Homo sapiens: one gene and its partners. The protein of the gene in region 3 interacts with the protein of the main gene of each other region in a pairwise test. Each region holds a gene or a part of one and is shown on either strand. Other genes may lie near its edges. The genes, in order: PLLP, SPATA24, PTAFR and PPM1J.

Region 1 (3,500 bases), on a different chromosome or scaffold from region 3:
CTACTAAAAATACAATAATGAGTTGGGTGTAGTGGCAGGCACCTGTAGTCCCAGCTATTCGGGAGGCTGAGGCAGGAGAATGGCGTGAACCCGGGAGGCGGAGGTTGCAGTGAGCTGAGATTACGCCGCTGCACTCCAGCCTGGATGACAGAGCACAAGAAGAGCTCTCAGATGCACCAAGTATGAGAAAAGCAACTTGCTGAACAAAGGATACAGAATAAAACTATCAATGTTTTCAAAAGTGCACAGGAAAAAAGACTAGAAACACCCCAAATAGTTGTCCCCTTAGGGACAGAGGTGGGTAATCCAACTACAGCTTTAGTGTAATCTGTACAGGTTTTTTTATTTTGTGAGGAGAATGTATTCATATATTCATAATGTAATTACACATTAATTCCCAAACACTCAATACTCCCCCCCTTGCAGTAAGTGGGGAGTGTGGGGGGAACTAACAATACAAGGCATTTATTGCTCTGTGCAGTGGAGCTGGGTTGGATGAAGATATTGGGCATGCGGGGCCTGGAATGCTGTACTAAAAAGACTGAACCACCCACAAATCTCAGTGCTAAGGGAAGCCCCGGGAGTCTCAGACATTGCAATCCGAGTGTGACCAAGCCCTGCTCACACCTCACTCGGACTCCAACAATCTCATCTAGGTAGCCCCTTCCTGGAGACCAGAGTTGGCTTTCAGTCCCTGCCCTGCCCTTCATCTGCAGAGGAGCTGGTCTGCCTCCTGGGGCCGGAGACAGAGCCGGTATCACCATAAGGAAGAACTTTCCAACACTCCCAAGTGCCCAAGGATGGAGCAGGCAGCCTTAAGAAGAACTGAGCTCCCTGTCTCTGGAAGCATGCAAGTTCATGTTGGAGATGCTGCAAAGGCACCTCTTATGCTTGCATAAGAACCCTCGGATCCTATAACCCTGTGAATCCAAACTGTCCTTCATTCCCACATATAGTGCTAGGCTAGCTCTTTGCAGGCATGATCTAGATCCTGCCATCACCATCTGACAGACAAGGAAGTGAGGCTCAGGGAAATTTGGGAACTCCCCCAGGATCATGCAGCCAGAAAGGGACAGAGCCAGGATTTGAACCCAAGGCTCTCAGCGTCCAGGCCTGTGTTCCCATCAGCACTCTCCATGCCACCCCATGGATCATGGAGATCTAGGGAAGGCTTCTCTTCTTCTTCTTCCTTTTTTTTTTTTTTTGTTAAGAGTAGAGGACTGGGTACAGTGGCTCACACCTGTAATCTCAGCACTTTGGGAGGCCAAGGCAGGTGGATTGCTGGAGCCCAGGAGTTCGAGACCAGTCTGGGTAACATGATGAAATCCCATCTTTACAAAAAATATAAAAACTTAGCCAGGCATTGTGGCATGTACCTGTCGTCCCAGATACTCAGGAGGCCTGAAGTGGGAGGATCGTCTGAGCCTGGGAGGTTGAGGTTGCAGTGAGCTGTGATCACACTACTATAGTCCAGCCTGGGTGACAGAGCAAGACCTTGTCTCGAGGAAAAAAAAAAAAAAGTAGGGGTCTTACTCTGTCACCCAGGCTAGAGTGCAGTGACGTGATCATGGCTTACTGCAGCCTTAAACTCCAAGGCTCAAGCAATCTTCCTACCTCAGCCTCCCAAGTAGCTGGAACTACAGGCATGTGCCACCCTGCCACCTGCCTAGCTAGGTGAGGCTTTTGATCTGTTATTCACCTGCAAAGTGGGAATTGTGTGGCCACCCCCAATCCCAGGAGGTGGGGCAAAATGGAAGGACAGAAGGTACCAAACCAAATGGCCTTACCGCCACAGGGCATTCACACAGCTTCCACATCCTGGGCCTCAAGGACGCCTACTGACTGACAGGTCTCTGTACAAGCTCTGGTCTGTCCTGATCCTCCTTCTCCCTTCCTATGCCAGGAAGCCCTCCCTGATGGCCTTGGCCCCTGATGAGTCTCCCTTCCTGCAGTCCCCCTTTTCCCCCTAGAAAGCACTCTAGAACTTCCCACCCCCAAAGTAAACAAGATGAGGAAGCATAGCTAGAGCCAGGTTTTGGATTTCCAGATCGAAGTGCAAAGCCAAGCTTGCCACTCTATCCTGTGTGACCTTGGACAAGTTCCTCACCCTCTCGGAGCCTATTTACTTATCAGTAAATCCAGATAAGATCATCCTTCTCCCCACGGCTTGGGGAGGCTTGAAAAAATGAGAGATGGGCACCTAACAGCACTACTTTATACTTATTGTAAAAAGGCTTTGGGAGCTCCCCATAAGCAAATAACCACGCCTTCTGCATTCTTCCACCTGAGCTACACAAAAATCTGTAGCACTGATGCCTTTTTTTTTTAAAACCAAAAGAGTTATCTGTAGATCAAACTTGCCTGCCTTGTGACATGAATCCATTGGCAAGAGAAAACAAAACAAAACAAAACAAAGACCTGCCTCCTTTTTTAGACGCTATCTGCATAGATTCTTCATGTTTCCCTTTTTGCCTAGGCTGCTAGGAAGTTCAACAAATAATCAACAGCCTTAAACTTGCTGCAAGTCAATTCTCCCCTCCACACCACCAGCTTTTAAAGATACATCGCTTTAACTCTTCTGTCTTATGTGGTTTAATATCATATTCCATCTGGTGTTCTTTCTGAATCTACAAGGAATAACGATAGTGATAAATCAATGAACACCACCAGACATCTGTGAAGAATACTGAGATTGGTTCTTCAGGACACATTCTGATACCGAATGAAAAGTGTATCTCCTTCTCCAGGAGCTGGGAGCCTTTCTACCCACCTCCCCTTCCTCCCACCATACCAGGAACATTCATCAAATCCTGGGAAACAGAAGGGTTTGATGGAGAATTAGCTTCCATTTTCTCATTTATTTCCTGCTCCATGCAGCCTTCTCTGATCCCTCTGGGAGAAGCACATCCTCTGGGCACCTCTCTCACTGACCAAGAGCTCCTGGAAAGCAGGCTGTGGGCCCAGGGTCCCCACCACTCCCTCCATAATGACAGATCCTGGGAAGGTAGCAGCAAAGCCACACGTGGTCATTAAGACCATAGGCCAGAAAAGTCAGAAAAATCACTCCTGTGGAGGAGGGCTGTGAGATCTTGGGCAAAGAACTGGCCTCTGAGCCTCAGTTTTCTCACCTAAAATGGGGCCGACTAAGAAGATCTAAAGGCCTTGGCAAAGGGCCTGAGCCTAGTGCTGGCCTGATAGATGGGAGCTACCATGGCTTCCCAGCAGATGGTGGTGCCTGTTGGATTAACCCCCACATATCCCATTTCAGACCCAGTGGAACTACCTGTTGCCAGAGAAACAGCTCAGGATGCAGCTTCTCCAACAAGCAGATTTTTTTTTTATTTCTTTTTTTTTTTGAGACGGAGTCTCTTTCTGTCTCCCAGGCTGGAGTGCCGTGGCGCCATCTCGGCTCACTGCAAGCTCCACCTCCCGGGTTCACGCCATTCTCCCGCCTCAGCCTCCCGAGTAGCTGGGACTGCAGGCACCCACCACCATGCCAG
Region 2 (3,488 bases), on a different chromosome or scaffold from region 3:
CCACACCTGGCTAATTTTTTGTATTTTTAGTAGAGACAAGGTTTCACCGTGTTAGCCAGGATGGTCTCCATCTCCTGACTTTGTGATCCACCCACCTTGGCCTCCCAAAGTGCTGGGATTACAGGCGTGAGCCACCACGCCTGGCCTTTTTTTTTTTTGAAGCGGAATCTCGCTCTGTCACCCAGGCTGAAGTGCAATGGCACGATCTCGGCTCACTGCAACCTCCGTCTCCTGGGTTCAAGCAATTCTTCTGCCACAGCCTCCAAAGTAGCTGGGATTACAGGCATGTGCCACCACACCCAGCTAATTTTTGTATTTTTAGTAGAGACGGGGTTTTACCATGTTGGCCAGGCTGGTCTCAAACTCCTGACCTCAGGTGATCCACCCGCCTTGGCCTCCCAAAGTGCTGGGATTACAGGCATGAGCCACTGTGCCTGGCCCCTTGTCCAACCTTTGAAGACAGTAGGATTTTCTTTCTGTAGGAATCAGAATTTTCCAAGGTGCCATGTGGGGCAGTTATGTAAATGAAGCACCCCCAGATCCCTACAGCCTCCTTGGATTTTGATCCAACACAGAAAAATTATCATTTATTTATTTATTTATTATTTAGAGACAGGGTCTTGCTCTGTCACCCAGGCTGGAGTGCAGGGGCACAGTCATAGCTCATTGCAGCCCCCAACTCCTGAGCTCAAGTGATCCTCTTGCCTCAGCAAGTAGCCAGGACTATAGGCATGTTCCAACACCATGCCCAGCTAGTTTTTTGTTTTTTTTTTTTTTAGTTTTGTAGAGGCGAGGTCTCACTATGTTGCCCAGACTGGTCTCTTACTCCTGGGCTCAAGCCATCCTCCTGCCTCAGAAAGTCATCTTTGCCTCAAATGTACGATTAATTTGGGGGTAGGCTTTGCCACCACTATCTCACTGGGTCCTCCCCAGACCACTGTGGGATAGGGCTGTCTCTTTCCCCATCTTTGAAATGAGGAAACAGGTCTGAAAATCGAGGCAACTCCCATCTTCTCCCACCACCCCTGAAGCCCTAGCACAAGGCTGGGCATCCAGCCAGCCCTCGGGAAGTTTGTTTGGACTGGGATGACTGAACTAGGTCTTTTTTCTGAGTCCTAAACCCCCAGGGACATCCCGTTCATTCGGTCTGCAAATATACTTTTTGTATACCTACTATGTGCCAGGTGCTGTTTTAGGCCTTAGGGATAAAGCCGTGAATAAAACAAAGATCCTTGTCCTTGTGGACCTTACATCCCAGCAGCGGAGAAGACAGATGAGTAAAGTATATGGTATGTTAGGTAAAAGTGTTAAGAAAAATAAAGCAGGATGTTGGGCATGGTGGCTCACGCCTGTAATCCCAGCATTTTGGGAGGCTGAGGTGGGTGGATCACCTGAGGTCAGAAGTTCGAGACCAGCCTGGCCAACATGGTGAAACCCCATCTCTACTAAAAATACAAAAATTAGCTGGGCGTGGTGGCAGGCGCCTGTAATCCCAGCTACTCGGGAGGCTGAGGCAGGAGAATTGCTTGAACTCAGGAGGTGGAGGTTGCAGTGAGCCAAGATCATGCCACTGCACTCCAGCCTGGCGACAGAGCAAGACTCAGTCTCAAATACAAAAAAAAAAAAAAGAGAAAGCAGGAAGAGGGAACAGGAAGTACTGGGAAATGTAATTTTTTGATGAGGGAGAGTTTCTCCAAGGAGGCAACATCTGTAAAGACCTGCAGGAGTTGAGGGCAGGCGCCATTCATCTTCCAGCCTTTGGTCAGGCCTGCCCACTTCTCTCCAAGGACCTTCTCCTGCCCTCATGTGGGTCCTCTGGTCCAGAATAGACTTGTGAAGTCATTGACAACAATCCTCAAACACTGCACTCCCCCAAGACTGCATAATAAACTCATTCATACTAAGGTATTAGCAGTTCTTCATGGAGAACTCTTGGGTGGGGAGCCAAGCTCTGAAAAGCCCCGTGAGGGAATGCCTTATCTCAGGAAGGAGCCCTGGGATGGGAACCACCCCTCCTCCCTGCCTCTCTCCCCCACAGAGATTGAGTCTCACATTATAAAGCAAGAAGATATACTTAATGGCAAAGAGAATGAGATTAAAGAGTTGCAGCAAGTTATCAGCCAGCAGAAACAGATCTTCAGGTGAGGGGTCTGGGCCCGGCTGGGGGTTGTTGATGACACTGGGGAGCCAGACCTCTGGCCCCTACCTACCCTTGGCTGTCCACAGCCCACCACCAGCCGGCTCCGTTGCAGGAATCACATGTCTGACTTCCGGATCCAGAAGCAGCAGGAGAGCTACATGGCCCAGGTGCTGGACCAGAAGCATAAGAAAGCCTCAGGGACACGTCAGGCCCGCAGCCACCAGCATCCCAGGGAAAAATAAAATGGCCGCCGCTTTCCTGTTCTCTGGCTGTAATCCCCAGCCTCTGCCTTCTCTGCTCTGGGAGTCCCCAGCCTCTAGCCCCTGCTACTTCCCTCCCTCTTGGATAGTGGTAGGGGTCCACAAGGTGGGGGCTTGTAGCCTAGGGGAGGAGCTGGGTCTTTGTTGTCTGGTAGGCACCACCGCTTCCTTTGGGTATTTAATCCCTTCCTATATAAACAGCCCTGGTTACCCAGTAATATTCCACCCCACTCCCAGTGTCCTGGTAAATTTAACTTCCCAACTTGACTACAGGGCCGGAAGCCCTGACCAGAAACTTCAAAGACAGTGGGTTCCAGAACCACAAGGAATTTGGGAAGTCAGTTTCCATCACATGACAATAATGTTATACCTGCAAATTGCATTTGCACCTGCTGACACCTCCCCCAAACGGGAGCTTCACAATGGGAGGAAGAGAAAAGACAATGCTGTGTGTGGTTTTAAGGTGGAGAAACAATCTGGGAAGGGACCTCAATTTGCACAAGTTGCACAGGCAGGGCTGGATGGGATGGAGCAGCAACATTTTTTCAGAAGCCATCACCGAGTGCCCCCTAGGTGATCATGGGGACACACCCAGGCAGAGGACCCACTTCAGGGGTCAGATTAGCCCAGTGTAGCCTGTCCTGGGTCGGTTTGAGGCCAAGTGCACAGGAGGGGGCAGTGCTCTTGCTCCAGGGCCAGCTGGGGCCTGAGTCATAGCAGGACCTTGAAGCCAGAAGTTTAAGGGCAAGTGGTGCCCACAGTTGTAAGACAATGACAGGTGGTGGTTGCCTCCCCACCAGCGCCTGTCCCCAGGGCAGGTCCTAAGGCTGTGGGGGCTGAAGTTAGGGCCTTGTGAATACCTGGGGGAGCACAGGGCTGTTCTGGCCGCAGGGGCCTTTGGAGCTGGGACCACAAGCTACTTCGAAGCTTCCTGTAGGACCCCACATCGGTATCCAGGGCCTGTTCTAGGTGCTGAGGCAGACTGAAAGCTAGAGCTGTCCACTCCAGCTCCTTCCAATAGGTCCCACCGAGGGCAGTGGGTCCAGCCAGTGGTAGTACCTTCCTGAGGCCCTGAGGAGTCAGGGAAG
Region 3 (4,576 bases):
AAGACAGACACATAGATCAATGGGACAGAATAGAGAGACCCAAAATAAACCCTCACATACATAGTCAAATAATCTTTGACAAGAGGACCATGATTACACAATGGGGAAAGAATAGTCCCTTCAACGAAAAGTGCTGGGAAAGATGGATATCCACATGCAGAAGAATGAAGATGGGCTCTTATCTTACACCATATATTATACAAAAATTAACTTAAAATGGATTAAAGACCTAAACATAAGACCTGAAACTATAAAACTCCTCAAAGAAAACATAGGATAAAAGCTTCTTGGCGGGGTGTGGTGGTTCACGCCTGTAATCCCAGCACTTTGTGGGGCTAAGGTGGGCAGATCACCTGAGGTCAGGAGTTGAAGACCAGCCTGGCCAACATGGTGAAATCCCGTCTCTACAAAAATACAAAAAGTAGCCAGGCATGATGGCGGGTGCCTGTAATCCCAGCTACTCGGGAGGCTGAGGCACGAGAATCACTTGGACCAGGGAGGCGGAGGTTGCAGTGAGCCAAGATCGTGCCATTGCACTCCAGCCTGGGAAACAGAGCAAGACTCCATCTCAAAAAAAAAAAAAGCTTCACAACAGGCCAGATACAGTGGCTCATGCCTGTAATCCCAGAACTTTGAGAGGCCTAGGTAGGAGGATTGCTTGAAGCCAGGAGTTTGGGATCAGCCTGGGCAACGTAGCAAGATCTTGTTTCTACACAAAATTTAAAAAATTAGCTGAGCACGATGGCATGCACCTGTAGTCTCAGCTATTCAGAGGCTGAGACAGGAGGATACCTTGAGCCCAGGAGCTCAAGGCTGAAGTGAGCTATGATCATGCCACTGTACTCCAGCCTAGGCAACAGAGGGAGACTCTGTCTCTAAACAACAAAAAAATTAATTAATTAGTTATTTACATTAAAAACAATAAAAAGCCTCATGACATTGGAATGGGTCATAATTTCCTGGATATGACACCAAAAGCACAGGCAACGAAAGCACAAATAAACTATTTTTTGGCAAACTTTAAATAATCTCCATGAAGCAAAGGAAAACAATCAGCAGAGTGGAAAGGCAACCTGTGGATGGGAGAAAAGGCAACCTTTCGGATGGAACCAGATATCAGATAAGGGGTTAATATGCAGAACTCCTACAACTCAGTAACAACAATAACAAAAAATTCAATTTAAAAAATGGGCAAAGAACCTGAATAGACATTTCTCCAAAGACGATATACCAATGACCATAAACATGTGAAAAGATGGCTCAATATCACTGATCATCAGAGAAATGCAAATTGAAACCATAATGCAATATCACCTCAAACCCACTGGAATGGCCACTATCAGTAAAACAGAAATGTGTCAGCAAGGATGTGAGAAATTGGAACTTTCGCATAGTGTTCGTGGGATTCCAAAACGGTGCAGCCACTATGGAAAAGAGTATAGAAGCTCCTCAAAAAACTAAAATTAGAATGATTATATGACCCAACAGTTCCGCTCTGGGTATACTATATATTCAAAAGAACTGAAAACGGGATTTTTTTTTTTTTTTTTTTTTTTTTTTTTTGAGATGGAGCCTTACTCTGTCGCCCAGGCTGGAGTGCAGTGGCACGATCTTGGTTCACTGCAACCTCCGCCTCCCGCGTTCAAGCGGTTCTCAGCCTCCCTAGTAGCTGGGACTACAGGCACCCGCCACCTCGCCCGGCTAATTTTTGTACGTTTAGTAGAGACGAGGTTTCGCCATGTTGGCCAAGCTGGTCTCTAACGCCTGACCTCAAGTGATCCGCCCACCTTGGCCTCTCAAAGTGCTGGGATTACAGGGATGAACCACCACGCCCAACTGAAAACCAGATCTTTTTTTTTTTTTTTTTTTTTTTTTTGAGATGGAGTCTCGCTCTGTAGCGCAGGCTGGAGTGCAGTGGCGCAATCTCGGCTCGCTGCAAGCTCCGCCTCCCGGGTTCACGCCATTCTCCCGCCTCAGTCTCCCGAGTAGCTGGGACTACAGGTGCCCGCCACCACACCCGGCTAATTTTTTTTTTTTTTTTTTTGTATTTTTAGTAGAGAAGGGGTTTCACCGTGTTAGCCAGGATGGTCTCAATCTGCTGACCTCGTGATCCGCCCTCCTCGGCCACCCAAAGTGCTGGGATTACAGGCGTGAGCCACCGCGCCCGGCAGAAAACAGGATCTTGAAAAGACATTTGCACATTCATATTCATAGCAACATTATTCACAATCATCAAGCGTGGAAACACCTAACATGTCCATGGACAGATGAATGGATAAGCAAAATGTGGTATATACATACAATGGAATATTACTCAGCCTTACAAAGGAAGAAAATTCTGACACATGTTACAACATGGATGAATCTTGAAGACATTTCTGCTAAGTGAAATAAGCCAGCTCACAGGAAGACAAATACTATATGATTCCACTTATTATATGAGACATTTAAAGTAATCAAACGCATAGAACCAAAAGTAGAACGGTGGTTGCCAGGGGCTGGGAGGAGGGGAAAATAGAGAGATGTTCAACAGATGTAGAGTTTCAGTCATGCAAGATGAAAACATTCTTTTTTGTTTGTTTGTTTGAAATGAAGTCTCACTCTGTCACCCAGGCTGGAGTGCTGTGGCATGATATTGGTTCACCACAACCTCCGCCTCCTGGGTTCAAGCGATTCTCCTGCCTCAGCCTCCCGAGTAGCTGGGATTACAGGCATGCACCACCACACCCAGCTAATTTTGTATTTTTGGTAGAGACGGGGTTTCAACATGTTGACCAGGATAGTCTCGAACTCCTGACCTCAAGCGATCCACCCTCATTGACCTCCCAAAGTGCTGGGATTACCAGCATGAGCCACTGCGCCCAGCCAAGTTGAAAACATTCTATTGGCACTCGCAGGATTTAAAAAAAGAAAAGAAAAGAAAAGAAAACATTCTAGAGATCTATTATACAACAATGTGAATATAGGTAGCATGACTGAACTATACACTTTAAAAATGTTAACAGGGACCAGGCACATGGCTGGAATTACGTGGCCTGTAATTCCAGCACTTTGGGAGGCCAAAATGAGTGGATCACTTGAGCCCAGGAGTTTGAGACCAGTCTGGACAACATAGCAACACCCCAGTCTCTATAAAATAAATTTTTCAAAATGCATGCTAAGAGAGTAAATTTATGTTACGGTTTTCACCACAGTAAAAAAAAAAAAAAAATCAATGGGCCTAAGAGACGACAAATTTGAAAGTACATTGTGTATTTTTAAGTTAGAGTCATATGACTCAGTTTATGACTTAAAAGCTATGCAACCTTTGGTAAAACTGCTTGCCGCCTTCGGGCCTCATTTGTAAACCACATCTCTTTCATCAAGCGAAATAAAGGATGTACAGTATTTAGAGAACAGTGGTTAAGAGCACAGACTCTGGAGTCAGACTCTGTAGTCAGACAAACCTGGGTTCAGATCTTACCTCTCTCACTTCCTACCACAGAACCACAGCCAAGCATGTCCTCCCTCTGATTCTCAGGTCCCTCACTGAAAATGGAGCTGATAATACCCAGGCACATACCTCTCCAGAGTGGTGTGAAGAGTCAATGAAATAATGTGTATAAAGTCCTTATCAGGGCTGGGCGCAGTGGCTCATACCTGTAATCCCAGCACTTTGGGAGGCCAAGGCGGGCAGATCACTTGAGGTAAGGAGTTCGAGACCAGCCTAGCCAACATGGTGAAACCCTATCTCTACTAAAAATACAAAAATTAACCAGGCATGGTGGTGCATGCCTGTAATCCCAGCTACTCGGGAGGCCGAGGCAGGGGAATCACTTGAACCCAGGAGGCAGAGATTGCAGTGAGCCAAGATGACGCCATTGCACTGGAGTCTGGGCGACAGAGCGAGACTCCATCTCAAAAAAAAAAAAAAAAGAAGATGCCTGGTCTGGTCTACAGTGAGAGCTCATTGAATGTTGGCTATTGTTACTCTTACTTCCCTACCCCAGACAGAGTTGGAAATTCCACCTCAAGTTCCCATAACAATCTATCACATTGCATTATCATAGCTGTTGATTTCTCTCTCCTTTTGGACTGGGAATTCCCAAGGGCCAAGGCTTCTGGCATATCACCAATACCCATCACAGGGCCTCCTACATAGCAAACACATGAGAAATACTGACTAAATAGACAGGTGAGCCTCTGTACACACACAGTCACAGTGTCCCTCACTCTTCGCTTCCAAACTCTCACACCCCAGCTCTAGCCACTCCCAGCTCTTAGATTCGCTGGGGCCAGTCCCACTTTCCTCATCTATAAAATGGGAATAGCATCAACATTGAGGCTGGAAAGGTGGCCCACATCTATAATGCCAGCACTTTGAGAGGCTGAGGTAAGAGAATTGCTTGAGGTCAGGAGTTTAAGACCAGCCTGAGCAACATAACCAAATTTTGTCTCTACAAAATTAAAAATTAAAAAAAAAATTAGCCAGGCATGGTGGCACATGCCTGCAGTCCTAGCTACTATGGAGGCTGAGGCTGCAGGATCACTTGGGTCCATTACAGTAAGCTATGATCATACCACTGCACTCCAGCCT
Region 4 (3,051 bases), about 85 Mb from region 3:
TTGATTTCTACGGGTGGAGGGGGTAGGGGGAGGGTGACTGTGTGCTGGAACCTCTCCTTCTACCCACCTCTGACCCTTCCTTATGTGGCAGGATGAGCAGATGGCCCGGGAGCGGCGTGGCCACCAAGTGGAGGGGGGCTGCTGTGCACTGGTTGTGATCTACCTGCTAGGCAAGGTGTACGTGGCCAATGCAGGCGATAGCAGGTATGGGGGAGGGGGCTCCAAGGTGGCGACAGAGGGCCACACTCTCTGAGTTGGGGGAATACAGGAGAGTAAGGTGGCAGGGGTTAAAAATCAAGATTGGAGGGAGTCAAGAGGGGTGACAGACATAAGGAGTGGCCTGAAATATCCATTGGGTGGGGTCAGGGGCAGATATGGGGGTCTGGGTAAGAGATCTGAAAGGTCATTATGGAGAGGGCCTGGTCTTTCTGGAATTTTTCATGAGTGGGTCTGAAGAGAACCAGGTCCCAATTCCTTTTCTTTCTTTGGGCAGGGCCATCATTGTCCGGAATGGTGAAATCATTCCAATGTCCCGGGAGTTTACCCCGGAGACTGAGCGCCAGCGTCTTCAGCTGCTTGTAAGTAGGAACCAAATTCCCTACCCCCATTCTTTGTCGGGTCTTGTGCCTCCCTGCACCCCATGGCCCTGAGAACTCTCACACCCCCACCACAGGCACAGAAAGCACTTTACTGGGAAGGCCGCTGTGTGGACTATGGAGTGCGGGGCTGAGCCGGTGGGAGGTTGCAGCAGGGAGGCTGCAGCACTGGGCTGGTCCAGTGCTCCCACTGTGGCCCCAGCTGAGGCAGGAAGTAGAGACTGAGGTGGGGGAAGGAAACAGCAAAGGCCCCTGAAAGGCAGTCCGGCTTAGTGCCTAAACGCATGTGGCTGTGGAGCTGGAAGCCCGGGATGCATCCTGGTCTGAGTGCTTTGCTAATTGTGTGACCGGAGCAGTTCCCTCCCTTAACCTCTCTGTGCATCAATAGTTCCTGCCTTAAGGGCTGTTGTGAGGAGTAAATGAGTTAATATTTGCTAATATTAGAATAACGTGTGGCACATGGTAAACTCTGTTTAAGGGTCTGCTGTAGTCAACGTCATCTGTGTGCCACCGTGTGCTGTGAGCATAATGCCCCCTGGCTCTCTGTTCTGATCATCCCCAACTCCAGGGCTTCCTGAAACCAGAGCTGCTAGGCAGTGAATTCACCCACCTTGAGTTCCCCCGCAGAGTTCTGCCCAAGGAGCTGGGGCAGAGGATGTTGTACCGGGACCAGAACATGACCGGCTGGTAACACTTCCCTCAGAGCTGGGGCCCGTTCCCATGGCAACACAACCAGTCCCTCGCCCGCAGCAAGGTGGAAGCTGGAGGCTGGGAGTTGGGAGGATGTGGCCCTTCTAAGGGGTTTGTGTGAGGGTATGCAGCTCCTAGGGGAGAGGGGCTTTGATGCCTGGGTGATGCCTCCTCTACTCCCCCCTCCCCAGGGCCTACAAAAAGATCGAGCTGGAGGATCTCAGGTTTCCTCTGGTCTGTGGGGAGGGCAAAAAGGTAAACTCCATGGTAGAGGTGGGAGAGGGGAGGAGGACCTATCACAACTTGTCTAGGGAGGTGGAGGTTCTACCTGAGGGTAGGGGTGGAAGGGATCTTTGGTTTCAGAGAATCTAGCAGAGGACTACAGTGGCACTCCCTCCTCATTTCTTTCAGGCTCGGGTGATGGCCACCATTGGGGTGACCCGAGGCTTGGGAGACCACAGCCTTAAGGTCTGCAGTTCCACCCTGCCCATCAAGCCCTTTCTCTCCTGCTTCCCTGAGGTGAGCCCCTTAAACCACACCTTGCCTTCTCTGGGAGTCTCAGGCCAGCTTTCATCTGCAGTCCCTTTATCTCCAAGCTCCCTGTCCAGCAAACCCCACACCTCAATCCTCTCTGCCCTTTTCTCCCACCAGGTACGAGTGTATGACCTGACACAATATGAGCACTGCCCAGATGATGTGCTAGTCCTGGGAACAGATGGCCTGTGGGATGTCACTACTGACTGTGAGGTAGCTGCCACTGTGGACAGGGTGCTGTCGGCCTATGAGCCTAATGACCACAGCAGGTAGGGGCTGCATGGCATGGTGGTAAGGGGATGGCATTGGTGAAAGAAGGGTCAAAGGGAAGCAATGCTTGGGACCCCACATGTGGGCCTGTGTATCTGTCTTCCCACATACATGTTGGTACATGAATGTGCATGTGTGCTCCTGGCAGGTATACAGCTCTGGCCCAAGCTCTGGTCCTGGGGGCCCGGGGTACCCCCCGAGACCGTGGCTGGCGTCTCCCCAACAACAAGCTGGGTTCCGGGGATGACATCTCTGTCTTCGTCATCCCCCTGGGAGGGCCAGGCAGTTACTCCTGAGGGGCTGAACACCATCCCTCCCACTAGCCTCTCCATACTTACTCCTCTCACAGCCCAAATTCTGAAGTTGTCTCCCTGACCCTTCTTTAGTGGCAACTTAACTGAAGAAGGGATGTCCGCTATATCCAAAATTACAGCTATTGGCAAATAAACGAGATGGATAAAGGTGTGTGTCTGTATTTGCTTTGACTAGAAACTGAAAGATAAGAAGAAAGCTCTGTGGGGTGGTGGAAAGAGCACCAGAACAGTTCTAGAAATGTGGTGTCCCCCAGGTTCTTTATTCCACCCCCACTCTTTCCACTCCACGCATTTGCTGTGAGTGTCATCATCCACTTCTGTGGCCTCACCCATCTGCCCAGACCCTTCCTGAGCTTTAGACCCACACATACCAGTCATCTCCCGAATGTCTCCTGGATAGCCTGCTGGCACTTCAATTCAAATACCTCAAACTAAATTCACGACTGCCCTCCATAGCATGTTCCTTCTCCTGGTATATCCCCTCAATGGGCACCAGCTCTGCTGCTCCAGTTAGAAATCTTGGAGTTGGTCACCCTTGGCTTTCATTTCTTTCTCATCAAGGTAATTGATCACTAAGTATTGTTGACTATAGACCTTTAAAAGTATTTCTCTACTTATCTCCATCTCTCCCCGCCTTCAGTCACCAC

What was found.
Region 1: the proteins of PTAFR (region 3) and PLLP interact in a two-hybrid assay, tested with the Homo sapiens proteins (one large-scale study listed by BioGRID and IntAct).
Region 2: the proteins of PTAFR (region 3) and SPATA24 interact in a two-hybrid assay, tested with the Homo sapiens proteins (one large-scale study listed by BioGRID and IntAct).
Region 4: the proteins of PTAFR (region 3) and PPM1J interact in a two-hybrid assay, tested with the Homo sapiens proteins (one large-scale study listed by BioGRID and IntAct).

What each region holds. Positions count from the first base shown.
Region 1 is NC_000016.10:57,278,173-57,281,672, forward strand, and holds part of PLLP (plasmolipin), read right to left. Parts: intron 1-3,500. UniProt on the Homo sapiens protein: Main component of the myelin sheath that plays an important role in myelin membrane biogenesis and myelination. Plays an essential function in apical endocytosis. Regulates epithelial development through the regulation of apical endocytosis.
Region 2 is NC_000005.10:139,395,694-139,399,181, reverse strand, and holds the end of SPATA24 (spermatogenesis-associated protein 24), read left to right. Parts: intron 1-1,755; coding exon of another isoform or gene 1,756-1,829; exon of another isoform or gene 1,830-1,904; intron 1,905-2,038; coding exon 2,039-2,141; intron 2,142-2,226; coding exon of another isoform or gene 2,227-2,252; coding exon 2,253-2,382; downstream 2,383-3,488. UniProt on the Homo sapiens protein: Binds DNA with high affinity but does not bind to TATA boxes. Synergises with GMNN and TBP in activation of TATA box-containing promoters and with GMNN and TBPL1 in activation of the NF1 TATA-less promoter.
Region 3 is NC_000001.11:28,166,101-28,170,676, forward strand, and holds part of PTAFR (platelet-activating factor receptor), read right to left. Parts: intron 1-4,576. UniProt on the Homo sapiens protein: Receptor for platelet activating factor, a chemotactic phospholipid mediator that possesses potent inflammatory, smooth-muscle contractile and hypotensive activity.
Region 4 is NC_000001.11:112,709,498-112,712,548, reverse strand, and holds the end of PPM1J (protein phosphatase 1J), read left to right. Parts: intron 1-91; coding exon 92-204; intron 205-493; coding exon 494-578; intron 579-1,164; coding exon 1,165-1,283; intron 1,284-1,477; coding exon 1,478-1,541; intron 1,542-1,697; coding exon 1,698-1,805; intron 1,806-1,937; coding exon 1,938-2,089; intron 2,090-2,238; coding exon 2,239-2,386; 3' UTR 2,387-2,551; downstream 2,552-3,051.